2 linked regions of the Homo sapiens genome follow. The protein of the gene in region 1 interacts with the protein of each later gene in a biochemical or structural test. Each region holds a gene or a part of one and is shown on either strand. Other genes may lie near its edges.

Region 1 (6,995 bases):
GCAGAAATGCTTTAACTTATTTCAGGGATAAGAGATGTATACCAGGTACTAAGGCTGTTTGAGGATATCCTAACACTGTGGTTGATATCAGGGCAACAGTTGCATCCTTTCCCACCATTCCCCTTGGTGCTACTTTAGAGAGAGAACCCTGTGATAGAAGGGCCATAGGTCTGGGCCAAGAAGCAGTTCTGTTGTTCTTGGATGTGGGGAGGAGAGGGAGGGGGCTGGGTGGAACTTGGGCAAGCCTCCATACCATCTCAGCAAAGATGCAGCCCAGGCTCCAGATGTCCACAGCTGTGGAATAATATTTGCAGCCCAGGAGGATTTCAGGAGCTCGGTACCACAGGGTCACCACCTGAGGGACGGGAATAGGGAGGGGCGGGGTGGTTTATAGGGTATGGAAATTCCCGCATCTCAGTTCCTCAACACTACTCTGCTTACTCTTGGCCTCTTAACAAGCAGTTTCCTTCCCTCCATCATCTTTCCCCTCCCACTGATTTCCAGTCCATAGTTCTGGACTGAACCCCTAATTTGAGATCTTCCTGGAAAAACTTGAGACAAATTGGTCATAATTTTATTTCTAAATTTTTTCTTTTTGTAGATTTGTAGAGATGGGGTCTCGCTATGTTGCCCATGATGGTCTCGAACTCCTGGGCTCAAGTGATCCTCCCACCTCAGCCTCCCAAAGTATTGGTATTACAGGTGTGGGCCCAGTTAGCAACACAGTATGAATTCCATGCATACCCTAAGACTCTTTAGGATGTCAAGAGATTATTTCTACCTAGTAAGAAACTGTTAGCCAGATATTTTTAGTAACTTTGTGAATACCCTAGTTAACACCTCTTGGGAAGCTCAGAGAAAAAAGACATAAAGGGACTCACCTCATGGGTGTAAGTACGAACAGGGACTCCAAAAGCTCTGGCTAGTCCAAAGTCTGCTAGCTTGATGGCCCCCTCTGTGTTAATAAGCAGATTCTGAGGTTTAAGGTCTCGGTGGAGGACCCGATGAGAATGGCAGAAAGCTAGGCCCTGGAGCAGCTGGAACAGATAGCTCTGACAAAGGAGAAAGAGAGGACTGTGTTTCTCCATTACAGTGAGCAGACTGGGTTTGCTCTGTGCCCCTAAAACTCTACTAAAGCCTTTATTATGTTGGATTATAGTTACATATTTACAAGCTATTTCTCCCAATGGACTGTCAGCCCAGAGAGGATAAGGACCAAGTCTTACTCAATTTTCCATCCCTTTTCTACATCCTGTGCATTGAAAAAATGTTTGTTAATAGATTGAAAGTAGCTCTGGGAGTGAAGAATCCAGCCCTAAAATAGACAATAGGGACTCACTAGCTAGGTCTTCCACCAAATGGAAGGGCTTTTTGGAGGAATTTACCAAGTGCTCTCAAATCCCGTTTATCTGAGTTTCATCTGACCTCCCACCTGAGTTGCTAGGTTGACTCACTAGAGTTTCAACTTTGATTGTTCAGTCCAACCCTAGGGTTAATGAATATAATGAGCAGGGAAGGAGACACAAAAAGAAGGGGAGTGTGTGTGTATAGGAGATGAGGGCTCAGAAGGAGGCCAAAATCATAAAATATCACCCTGAATTGCCTGCCACCAGTCCCCCAAGACATGCCCATGATGAGAGGAGCTGATGAGAAGCATTACCTTGATGAGGGGAAGAGGAATGCCAGTGAGAGCAGAGGCATCCATGAATTTCTTGAGATCTTGGTGCAGAAATTCAAAAACCAGGTAGAGTTTATTTTCTGTGTGAATGACATCCAGCAGCCTAGAGAAGGAAAGTTTGAGGAAATGGAGGTGTGTGAGAGAGAGAAATGCCCACACTGTACAGACAGAACTTATCCTCCTTTCCAGCTGGATCACCTCTCAGACGCATACTTACTTGACAATATTAGGATGGTTAAGCTCCTTAAGCAGAGAGATCTCTCGGATGGCAGTACTGGGCACACCCTCAGTCTCACTTGGAGAGGTTGGGAAAGCAGAGATGGGAATATGGTTACAAATATTCCTTTCCCCCCCACCTAGTCATTTCTTTCCCCCAAGGAGACACCACCCAGCACCCCCTAGGAAAGTGAGAGAAGAGAAAGGGTGATGGTAAGAGCTAATTCTTGGGTAGTCAGGGTGTGGTTTTTGGATATATTAAGGCCATTATCTCCTCTTTTCCCAGGGGTAGGTAAGTAAAGCCGCCTGGTGAAGGTGAAGCAGGGAGACTGTAATGGAGGGGAAAAAATGCAGGAGTAGCCCCCAGCCTCCCCAGAGGGGCCAGTGAGGTTCAACTGCCATTCTTTGGAAAGAGGAGAGAATTCTAAGGTGAGGGTGGGGCAGTGAAGAGGGCTCTTCATTCAGAAAGGCGATTCTCGCCGGTTCCCACATAACTCCACTCCATGGAGAGTCTTGGACCTCATCTCAGAGACCTCCTTTCTCTCCCCGAGTCTGTAGTCGCACATTTGGGGGCACGATCCGGCTCAGTTTGGGAAGAAAGTTTTCCATGGATTCCACACCACCCTATACTCTCCCCAGGGAGTATAAGTATACTCTTCACCTTCTACTGGCCCCCAACCCACCTCTCCACTTCTAAAGAAGTCCCTCCCTGCTCTCTTCCGGTCCCTGGACGGCTACCCGCCCGTGGGGGGTTGGGGGGGACAATCAAGGAGGTCCCCAGTTAGGAGTCCCGGGTACAGAGGCCACTCACGTGTCCAGGCGGATTTTCTTAAGCGCCACCACCTCTCCCGTCAACTTGTTTCTGGCTTTGTACACAACTCCGTACGTGCCCTCTCCGATCTTTTCCACCTTTTGGAAGTTCTCCATGAAGCGCCAGCGAGTCGGGTCAGCCCGGCCCTGGAGCGGGGGCCTGGGAACCCTGCAGAAGGCGGACCCTGGCTCTCGGGGGCCGAGGAGGGGGAAACAGGGCCCAGTACCGTGGCCCCGGGTCGGGATGGAACGCAGTATACCTCTCGCTCTTGTCAATTTGGCCAACTTGAAACAATGTTGCCGCCTCCCACCGAGTTCCCGACCGCCACCAGAGGCCCCGCCCCTGCTTCCCGCGTTTCCCTGGCTCCGCCCCCAGGCCTTTCTATTGGTCAACGTCAGAGCCGGGGGGCGAGCCCAGCGCTCCTCCCCGCAAATGATCCCGCCCCAGGCAAGTTTGGTTCTTGGGGGCTAGACAAGTTTCTTCCCCGGTGGGGCGGCTGAACACTCTTCCCAAGTACCTGCTTTGGGTCCAAGTTTCCTACCTATGTCTCTAGTCTGTAGGGATTTCTTGATTTCTAACTCACTATTTTCACCAATCCTGGGGAAAATATGTATCGACCTAAGGTTAAATTCCACCTGGCCCAGGAGCCTCCTTTGGAAACCAGGAAGCCGGGAATCTCGTTGCAAAGGAATCCTGGGCCTCAGAGGAGTCGTTGCCTCTGCCTCATAGCATACCCCGACACTGTCTCTGTTTTGGGATGCAGGGTTCTGTTTCTGTCTTTTTGAGAAGTTCCTGGTTTAATTCACTCTCCCATGATAAACTGTTGTGTCTGGTATGTGTTACGCAGCTGCCTTTCAGTTAGCTCTTGCCCGGGAGTGCATCAAGATGAGAGTGACCCAGTGAAACCAGAAACTGTCATTGAGTAGCAGGATGGGAAAGCAATGTCTAGGGACCAGGATCCCTTTGTCAGTTTTTCCTTTTTCCTCTCCTCCGGCCCCTCCCAGGCCTTCTCTGAGGGAGAAGAGGAAGGGCTATGCAAATGAGCACCCTTTTCTTATATAGGGGCCTATCCCAGTCCCCCCAGTGCCTTTGGTTGCTGGAGGGAAGAACACAATGGATCTGGTGCTAAAAAGATGCCTTCTTCATTTGGCTGTGATAGGTGCTTTGCTGGCTGTGGGGGCTACAAAAGGTATGTGTGGATATGTGGACATGAGCAGGTGTGAACTTGGGGATGAATTCCCCCTGCTCTGGTTTCTGTCCTCCTAATGGGAGATAGCGGCAATATTTCAGGCGTCTCCCACTCATTTGATTTAGTGAGGATGTGGGCACCTGGGCTCCCTCCCTACATGGAGATTTGGGATTTTGCCTGAAAATAATCTCATATGCTTGGAGGGGCAGAAGGATAGAAGGTCTCTGTGGCACTGATTCTGAGGCTTCCTTGGCAGTGAGCTGGAGCACGGGCTCCAAAGGGGTGAAATGTGCAGGAGACTCTTTTAGGAAACGTCTCTTGGGGTAGGAGATTTAAAGTGGGGAGTCAGAGAATGTGGTATTGGGTAAGAACACTAAGGAGATACAATCCTCTCCTCTTGGGATGGGTACGGGTGAACACAGCCCAGACCTTTTGTTCTGGGGCTGGAGAGATAGGCAGAGGGGTCTCAGCTGAGCATCACATGAAAGGGCTCTGGGGGATTGGGCCTCGTGACAGGAGCAAGGGGCGGGGGTGGGGTGGTGAGAGGGTCTGGAATGTCCCGTGCTGCTCTGAGGAGAGTTGGAAGTGGAGAAAGAATGGGGTATCTTATGACTTCTCTTGTTCTAGTGGTGGGATGCTCAATAGATGATTCCAGATCCTCCCCCAGCAGAATCAACTAGGGTTACAGCACACATTAGAAAGGGAATGAGGCCGGGCGCCGTGGCTCACGCCTGTAATCCCAGCACTTTGGGAGGCTGAAGCAGGTGGATCACGAGGTCAGGAGTTCGAGACCAGCCTGGCCAATATGGTGAAACCCCCGTCTCTACTAAAAGTACAAAAATTAGCTGGGCATGGTGGCACATGCCTGTAGTCCCAGCTACTCAGAAGGCTGAGGCTGGAGAATCACTTGAACCCAGAAGGCAGAGGTTGCAGTGAGCCAAGATCACACCAATGCACTCCAGCCTGGGTGACAGAGCGAGTCTCCGTCTCAAAAAAAAAAAAAAAAAGAAAGGGGATGAGGCCCGGCACAGTAACTCATGCCTGTAATCCTAGCACTTTGAGAGGCTGAGACGGGTGGATCACTTGAGGTCAGACCAGCCTGGCCAATATGGTGAAACTCCATCTCTACTAAAAATACAAAAATTAGCTGGGCATGGTGGTACGCACCTGTAATCCCAACTACTTGGGAGGCCGAGGCATGAGAATCGCTTGAACCTGGGAGGCAGAGGTTGCAGTGAGCCGAGATCACACCATTGCATTCCAGCCTGGGCAACAGCAAGACTCTGTCTCAAAAAAATAAAAAAAGAAAAGAAAAGAAAAGAGATAAGGAGGCCGGGTGTAGTGGCTCACACCTGTAATCCCAGCACTTTGGGAGGCCGTGGTCATAGGATTGCTTGAGCCCAGGAGTTCAAGACCAGCCTGAGCAACATAGTGAGACCTTGTCTCTACGAAACGTAAAAAAATTAGCCAGGCCTAGGCCAGGCTTGGTGGCTCACGCCTGTAATCCCAGCACTTTGCGAGACCAAGGCAGGTGGATCAGCTGAAGTTGGGAGTTTGAGACCAGCCTGACCAACATAGAGAAACCCAGTCTCTACTAAAAATACAAAATTAGCTGGGCGTGGTGGTGCATGCCTGTAATCCCAGCCACTCAGGAGGCTGAGGCAGGAGAATCGCTTGAACCCGGGAGGCGGAGGTTGTAGTAAGCTGAGATCGTGCCATTGTACTCCAGCCTTCCAGCCTGGGCAACAAGAGCGAAACTCTGTCTCAAAAAAAAAAAAAAAAAAAATTAGCCAGGCTTGGTGGTGAGCACCTGTGGTCCTAGCCACTTGGGAGGCTAATGAGGAAGATGGCTTCAGCCTAGGAGTTTGAGGCTGCAGTGAGTGATGAACGTGCCACTGCACGCAGGGTGAGAGAGCAAAACCCTGTATCAAAAGGAAAGGAAAGGGGAAAGGGAAAGGAAAGGGAAGGAAGTTTCTGCAGGAAAGGGAAAAATGGGGTGAGGGTAGTTTTTGCTGTGCTGAACTATATACAGAAAGGAGAGGAGAGGGGAGGGAAGGGGAGGGGAGAGAGGTTTCTGCAGGAAAGGGAAAAATGGGGTGAGGGTAGTTTCTGCTGTGCTGAAATACATACATTATATCCCAGCCCTGCTTTCTCCCTAGATGTTTAGTGTCACAGATTTCTAGGAAGTTCTCCTTGATGTGACTTTCCTCGCTGTGCTGCAGTTTCAAGTCTTTTTCTTTTACTATATTCCTTAATGTATCCTGGAAAGAGTCTGTTCACACCCACCCACCTAAGGCTCTTAACAAAAAGACTGTACTTATATTTTGGATCCTGATTTTAAAAATCATAAGACATTTTTCCAGATATTCATGAAATTTTATATGGACTGAGTTTGATAATTTTGTCTAGCATGAAATGACATTGTGCTTATGCAAGAAAATACTCATACATTTTAAATTTGTAGGGTTAAAATAACACGATGTCTGGGATTTGCTTTTACATACTTTAGCCAAAACAAAAACAAAAACAACAACTAGTAAGGATAAACAAAGCAAATGTGGCAAGGTGTTGATAGTTGTTGGACCTGGGTGGGGCAGATGGAGGTCCAGCATATCCTTTTCTTCTCAGACCTCTCTTGGTCAGTTACAATAATTTTGTCTTCCCTGTCCCCATCCCCAATCTCTGCCAGCCTCTAATCCATCCTCCTCACTGCTTGCCATCGTGATCTTTCTAAAACACAAATTTGATCATGTTCAAAAGTAAATTTTTTTTTTTTTTTGAGACGGAGTCTTGCTCTGTAGCCCAGGCTGGAGTGCAGTGGTGTGATCTCGGCTCACTGCCACCTCCGCCTCCTGGGTTCAAGCAATTCTCCTGCCTCAGCCCCCTGAGTAGCTGGAACTACAGGTGCCCACTACCACGCCCGGCTAATTTTTGTATTTTTAGTAGAGACAGGGTTTCACTTGGCCAGGCTGGTCTCGAACTCCTGACCTTGTGATCCACCTGCCTCGGCCTCTCAAAGTGCTGGGATTACAGATGTGAGCCACCATGCCTGGCTAAAAGTAAATTTTATGGTATGTGAATTATGTCTTGATTTAAAACAA
Region 2 (7,000 bases), on another chromosome or scaffold:
AAAAAGAATAAACATACAGAGCAATGGAATAGAACTGAGACTCCAGAAATAAACCCTGGTTTTTATAGTCAACTGATTTTCATCAAGGGCACCAAAACAATTCAATGAAGAAAGAATAGTCTTTTCCATAAGTGGTGCAGAGACAACTGGATATCCACATTCAAAAGACTGGAGTTAGACCTCTTCCTCACATCATACACAAAAATTAACTCAAAAAAAAAAAACAAAAAAAAACCCAAGACTGACAAGAACTAAAAACCATATGACTTTTAGAAGAAAGCACAGAATAAGTCTTCATGACCTTGGGTTAGTCAAGGCCTTCTTAGATACAACATCAAAAGCCCAAGCAACCAAAAAAAAAACCACCACCAAAAAAAAAATAGAAAACTGGACTTCATCAAAATTAAAATCCTACGCTGCAAATGACATCATCAAGAAAGTGAAAAGGCAACTCACAGAATGGGGGGAAAAGTCTGCAAATAATATATCTTATAAGAGATATGCATAAAGGAGAAGCTTTAACTGCATCTTAAAAACAGAATTTAGGCTAAAAGAAAAAAGAAGGGTATTCCAAAAAAAGGGGAGATCGCATGAATATGAATACTATCATATTCATATGGAAGATATTCATATGGAAGATTCATATGGAAGGGAAGAGAACACAGGCATTGGGGGCCAACAATGGAAATAAAAAATAAGACTGGAAGGAAGGTTAAAGCACAGACCATGAAGAACTACAAATACTGAGAAAGTTTGGACTTTACTTCTTCATAATGGTGGTGGGAGCATGGGAGGGTGTTACAATGGAGGCTACTGAGAGTGGGTTGTAACAATGAAAAATAAATTTTAAAGCAAAAGGGGCAAACTGTACACCAGTCTTTTCTAAAAATCAGGCACAGGATGGATTGGATGGAGAAAAGAAGAGACTAGTCAGAAAGAGGCACTAAAACATGCATAAAAAATGCTCAAGTCAATGACATAAGCTTCCACCTTCTGAAATTAAAAAAATAAAAAGGAAATTAAAACCAAAGCAAACAGTAAAAACCAAGCACTGCTGGTAAAAGAAATGAAGGGACAGACGTGAGAGGCAATGCAAAAAGATAACTTGAGACTGAACGGATAGGTTTAAAATAGAAGGAGTCTGGTATAGTTTTAATTAGTCCTATGGACAGACACTGAATACCAAGGTAAACCTGTAAAGAAAGCAAATGGTAGTGTAAAATTCCACTTCTTCCTAGAATGCAGAAAGCTGCAAAGAGTATTGCTCCCACCCTCACAACAAGAACAAGCCAGATAAGGAACAAAAACAACCTTTCTTGAAATCAACATATCCTTTCCTTATATTTCAGATTATTTAATTTCCCCTAAAAAAAGGAACCTCCAATGAGAGAAAAGATATAAATAATGGCTCATCTGTGGCACAACATGAAAGGAAGAGACACAGGGAACCCTAACAAAAGTAAAAAGTATTCAGCTAAAAATTTTTAATGAATGCTGATTACAAAACAACAAAAATCCATTTAAATATAAAAAAGAAATAGGTTAAAATCAAAATGAAGGTAAACGATACACATTGTAAAGAGTGATCACAAGAAAAGTGGAATCGATATGTGGACACTGCAGAACAAAAGATATAAATTTGGATAAAAAAGCACATTACATAATGATAAAGGTACCAATTTACCTAAAAGGCATAAAAATTCTAAACTTGTATGTACCCAAGGATAAAGCTTTAAAATACACTAATAAAGGCCAGGCACAGTGGCTCACGCCTGTAATGCCAGCACTTTGGGAGGCCGAGGGCAGATCATGAGGTCAGGAGTTCGAGACCAGCCTGACTAACACGGTGAAACCCCGTCTCTACTAAAAATACAAAAATTAGCCGGGTGTGGTGGCGCATGCCTATAATCCCAGCTACTCGGGAGGCTGAGACAGGAGAATCGCTTGGACCCGGGAGGCAGAGGTTGCAGTGAGCCGAGATCGTGCCACGCACTCCAGCCTGGGTGACAGAGCAAGACTCCATCTCAAAATAAAATAAAATAAAAAATACATTAATAAAAAACAGAATTTAAAAGGACCATTCTAATTATAGTTGGAGGCTTCATATTTCTCCCTCAATAATTAGTAAAACACATAGAAAGAAAATCAGTAAGGATATGGATGATCTACTGTACCTTTTCTATGTATAGATATACAAATACTTACCATTGTGTTACAATTGCCTACAATGTTCAGTACAGTAACATGCTGTACACATTTGCAGACTAGGAGCAACATGCTATATACCACACAGCATAGGTGTGTCATAGGCTATACCATCCAGGTTTGTGTAAGTACATGCTATGATGTTCACACAACGATGAAATCACCTAATGATGCATTTCTCAGATGTGTTCCCATTGTTAAGCAACACATGACTGTATTTATTTAAAATATAACCACCATATCACAAAAATAAGTAAGTGGTTCTATCAAGAGCAATATATCCCAAAGCTCTTTGAGATATGTATATCATACATTTCATATACATATATATGTATGTATAACAAAAAGCCTATGAGGTTCACATTCAGGCATTATTTCTGCCTTACAGGTGAGCAAACTGAGACTCACAGAATTAACCAATTTGCCTAAAATCATATAGCTACAATATAATTACAACCAAAGTTTCCTGCCTTGAGGTCCAAGGCATTTTCCATTCTACCATACTACCAATCAAGATGCAGAAAGTAAACCAAAATTCTAACAGCTGATTCACCTTAAGTCACAATATGAACATCACCTTAGCCAATTTCTTAATGGAAAGTCCTATTCATATGCTATAATCAGCATAAATACAATCTAACCTTATGAACAAAGCTAATCTTTATTATTACACTTTACTAAATATTTATTTTAAAAAAAGAAAACACTTTTCTAGACAAAATACCACAAACTTTTCCTTTAAAGGGATTAATATATGCTTTCATGTATGCATAAACAACTTTTCTGATGCTAAAGTACTTAAAAATAAGAATTTTAACAAACATTACTACATCAAAATCACTACAATGCATTTAAAATTGTAACCATTTTAACTGATATCCTAAGTTCTCCTAAAAAAAAATACATCAATGATAAAATTTTCTGGGGTATTTCTTAAGTAAAATTATTCTGTTTGCAAGACCTAATATACATACTCATTGACTCTAATAAGAGCTTTATATGCATTAATTTATTTAATCTGCACATAACTCCAAGATCCAGAAATTACTGTCAGTCCCTTTTACAGGTAAGAAAACTAAGGCTTGAAAATTGTAGATAACATGTTCAAGATAATGGAGTTCGGACATGGTATATCTGTTTGACTCTTAATCCTTGCTCTTAACCCATCCTCTATCCCAATAAACATCACCTACTTTCTATTGTTAAAAAGGGTTTCCTTTTTGACAATATTCCTCCTCTTGTTTCAAAGAAGAGAGACAACTGCCACTAGAATAGCTGCACTGGAAACACATTTATTCTGTCATTACATTTGCTTCTTAGAACACACTGTATCACATTCTCCCTTAGATATTATTATATAAATGAAGGTTAAATTCTCAGGCCAAACCTCAAAAACGTAACTCTAACTTAAAATCATATTTCAAGGAAAAGTCTGTTGATTTACAACAGGACAACAGGACATCATCTTCCATCATACCCTTCAAAAGCACACCTCAAATCCCAAAAATAACATGAAATTCCTTTCTTACCTTCCTCCAGTACCTAGCCATAAATAATTTCACACATCCTAGTCCCCATTATGAGCTCCATTAGGAAATAAGATTCAAACTGGGCCAGTTCCCAGGGAAGGTAGAGACAAAGCCAGGATGAAAAAGGGTAATAAAGCAGTAACATTTGCTTATATATGTATTCAATTCTGAAGCTCAAAAGAGCCTCTACTGTTAAAACTATTATTGTTATAGTTTAGTACAAAAAAAAATAAGTTATGTGAACCAGGCTGGAAACCTAACTACTATATCAAACTTGCAAACAGATTTGGAACACAATGCACTTATAAATTGAAAACTACAGTATGTATATTCACTAATGCTCTTTATAATCAGCTATCCCTTCCAAAATTTCTGAACACTAAAAATCTAGTATTTTAGGAAGAGAAAAGTGAAGGAGCTCTGATCCCATTTAATTGTATATGCACAAAAACAGCTTTGTACATGAGGTACCCAAGTCAGTTAAAATATACATTAGATGCCTGGGGATTATAATACCCAAGTCATACATTCAAGATACTTCAGTATTCCTCTCTTTTTACATAAGAAATGTGAGACTATGTTCAATTCTTTGGAAATCATGACACTTGTTTTCTCCTTTTTACTGCCAGAGATTTTATTTAATGGTTTTAAACAATTTTCTTATGGGACATACATAAACACATTCCGCTGTGTTAATCAGATCAGTAAAAACAGATATATACTCTTATACTACTATGTTGAGAAAGTAAATTCATTAAAAGTATCTGTCTGAAGTGTAATCTAGCAATAATCATCAAGAGTCATAAAAATGTTCATAGCTTTTGATTTAGTAATTCAACTTATAAGAATTTATTCTAATAAAATAATCAGAGATTCATTCATTAATTTATTTAACAAGTTATCAAGGACTCACTTTGTGCCAGGCATTATTCTTACGAATACAAATGTTTATTACATTATTTTATAGCATCAAAAAGTTGGAAAAAACCCAAATATCCAGTAAGAGTTAACAAATTAAAATACATCCACTAGCTAAAATATTATACTATCACTAGAAACTATATTACAAAAAAACTTTAATAAGAAAATGCTCATATGAGAAAAAAACAGGAAAATACAAAACTATGTGTAACTACAGGTAACTATACATAACTACATGTATAATCTCAAATTTATATTTGAGATCTTATTTCCTAGGGACCTTGGTCAAGTTACTCAACCTCACTCTACTCAGTGTCTTCATCTGTTAAATGAACATTTCACATTTTACACATAAAAAAAGATTTTATATTTCATATCTCAATGATTTTTAAATGAGTTATTCGTAGATTTGTAAAGTTCTGGGGTTTTTTTTGTTTTTTTTTTGAGATGGAGTCTTCTCTGTTGCCTAGTCTGGAGTGCAGTGGCATGATCACGGCTCACTGCAAACTCTGCCTCCCAGGTTCAAGCAATTCTCCTGCCTCACCCTCCCAAGTAGCTGAGATTACAGGCATCTGCTACCATGCCTGGCTAATTTTTGTATTTTTAGTAGAGATGGGGTTTCACCATGTTGGCCAGGCTGGTCTAGAACTCCTGACCTCAAGTGATCACCTGCCTGGGCCTCCCAAAGTGCTGGGATTACAGGTTTGAGCCACCACGCCCAGCCTTATTTTTATTTATTTTTTTTTGCAACAGGGTCTTCCTGTGTTGCCCAGGCTGGAGTGCAGTGGTGCGATCTTGGCTTACTGTAACCTCCACCTCCCAGGTTCAAGTGATCGTCCCACCTCAGCCTCCCAAGTAGCTGGGACTATAGGCACACACCACCATGCCCGGCTATGTAAAATTCTTATACTATTGCCCCAGTACATATAAAACTCTAGTAATTATTTGCTCCTTTTATTAAACATATACATCTATACTTACGCAAAGAAAAAATGAAAGGAATATATCAATATATTTTCAAGATCCTGAATTCTAACAAAACTAATTCTGAGTCAGTCAGGAAATCTGAACACTGATTGCATATTAGAAGGTATAAAAATTATTTTATAAGGTATGGCGGTGTTTTTTTAAAAGTCCTTGTATCATAGTGAATAAAATATAACTAAGACCTGCTTTAAAATAGTTTGGTGGGAGGCATTTATGGAGGAATTTTTTTCAAACTTTTTTTTTTTTTGAGACAGACTCTCGCTCTGTTGCCAGGCTGGAGTGCAGTGGCACGATCTCGGCTCACTGTAACCTCCACCTCCTGGGTTCAAGCAATTCTCCTGCCTCAGCTTCCCAAATAGCTGGGACTACAGGCGCACGCCACACCCTGCTAATTTTTTTTTTTTTTTTTGTATTTTAGTAGAGACAGGGTTTCACCATGTTGCCCAGGCTGGTCTCGAACTCCTGAGCTCAGGCAATCCACCTGCCTCAGCCTCCCAAAGTGGTAGGATTACAGGCATGAACCACCGTGCCCGGCCTCAAACATTTTTAATGTTAGCAGAGGTAAATTTCCTCTGGGTAATGGAATTATTATTAGCTTTTATTGTCTTTATATTTTTCTATCTTTCAATTTTTGTATAGTGATTTGAAGTTGTTTTTAAAATGAGAAAAAAAAATTTCAAAACGTTTTAAGAAAATCCTTACCAATACTCCATCCACAGATGAAACTTTCTCCCAAGTTAACCAAGCTCTCTCTCTGACATGATCTGGTATCTTTAATTTCTGACATAATGCAGTAAAATCAGGTTCTTCTGTTTCTTCAAACTCAAGCCTACCAAATGAAAATAATCATATAATTGGCATATACTTATAAATCAAATTGATTCAGTACATACTTGTTTCAATAGTTTGCACATAACACTACTGTGAAAAAGAACATTATTAAATACTTTAAGATCTTATTTTATCTTAGAAAAACATTACACTTCAAATTTAAACATATGATTATCTTTTTCATGGTCATTCCAAAATAAGGATACCACACAGTGAAAAATATTTGCTTGCATGGTAAGTCAAATATACTTCAAAGCAGCAAAACACTTCTGTGAAGGAAAGTAAATGTAATAGCTAAAGCTGTTTGGGAAAATAGGATAAAGATAACAACAAAAAGATAAAAACCCATAGATAATATTATACAATTCAACGCCAGTGACTTTGTTAAACTGTAGTCTTCTCTTATCAATGTTTCATATATCTCTCTACCTACTAGCACATCTTACATGATGCGACTGCTTATTTTTGTCCTTTCCCCTTAACAAAGACAAGCATTTAATAAATTCTTGTTGGCTAATTCATTTTCA

What was found. Proteins that work in one complex are often made in the same cells at the same time.
Region 2: of the proteins of CDK2 (region 1) and RB1, one has a biochemical effect on the other in vitro, tested with the Homo sapiens proteins (35 studies listed by BioGRID and IntAct).

Annotation. Positions count from the first base shown.
Region 1 is NC_000012.12:55,962,835-55,969,829, reverse strand, and holds the start of CDK2 (cyclin-dependent kinase 2), read right to left. Parts: upstream 3,001-6,995; 5' UTR 2,822-3,000; coding exon 2,706-2,821; intron 1,974-2,705; coding exon 1,896-1,973; intron 1,782-1,895; coding exon 1,661-1,781; intron 1,053-1,660; coding exon 882-1,052; intron 356-881; coding exon 254-355; intron 1-253. Other genes in the region: melanocyte protein PMEL isoform 1 preproprotein, read left to right, coding at 3,819-3,894. UniProt on the Homo sapiens protein: Serine/threonine-protein kinase involved in the control of the cell cycle; essential for meiosis, but dispensable for mitosis. Phosphorylates CABLES1, CTNNB1, CDK2AP2, ERCC6, NBN, USP37, p53/TP53, NPM1, CDK7, RB1, BRCA2, MYC, NPAT, EZH2.
Region 2 is NC_000013.11:48,306,751-48,313,750, reverse strand, and holds part of RB1 (retinoblastoma-associated protein), read right to left. Parts: intron 6,472-7,000; coding exon 6,345-6,471; intron 1-6,344. UniProt on the Homo sapiens protein: Tumor suppressor that is a key regulator of the G1/S transition of the cell cycle. The hypophosphorylated form binds transcription regulators of the E2F family, preventing transcription of E2F-responsive genes.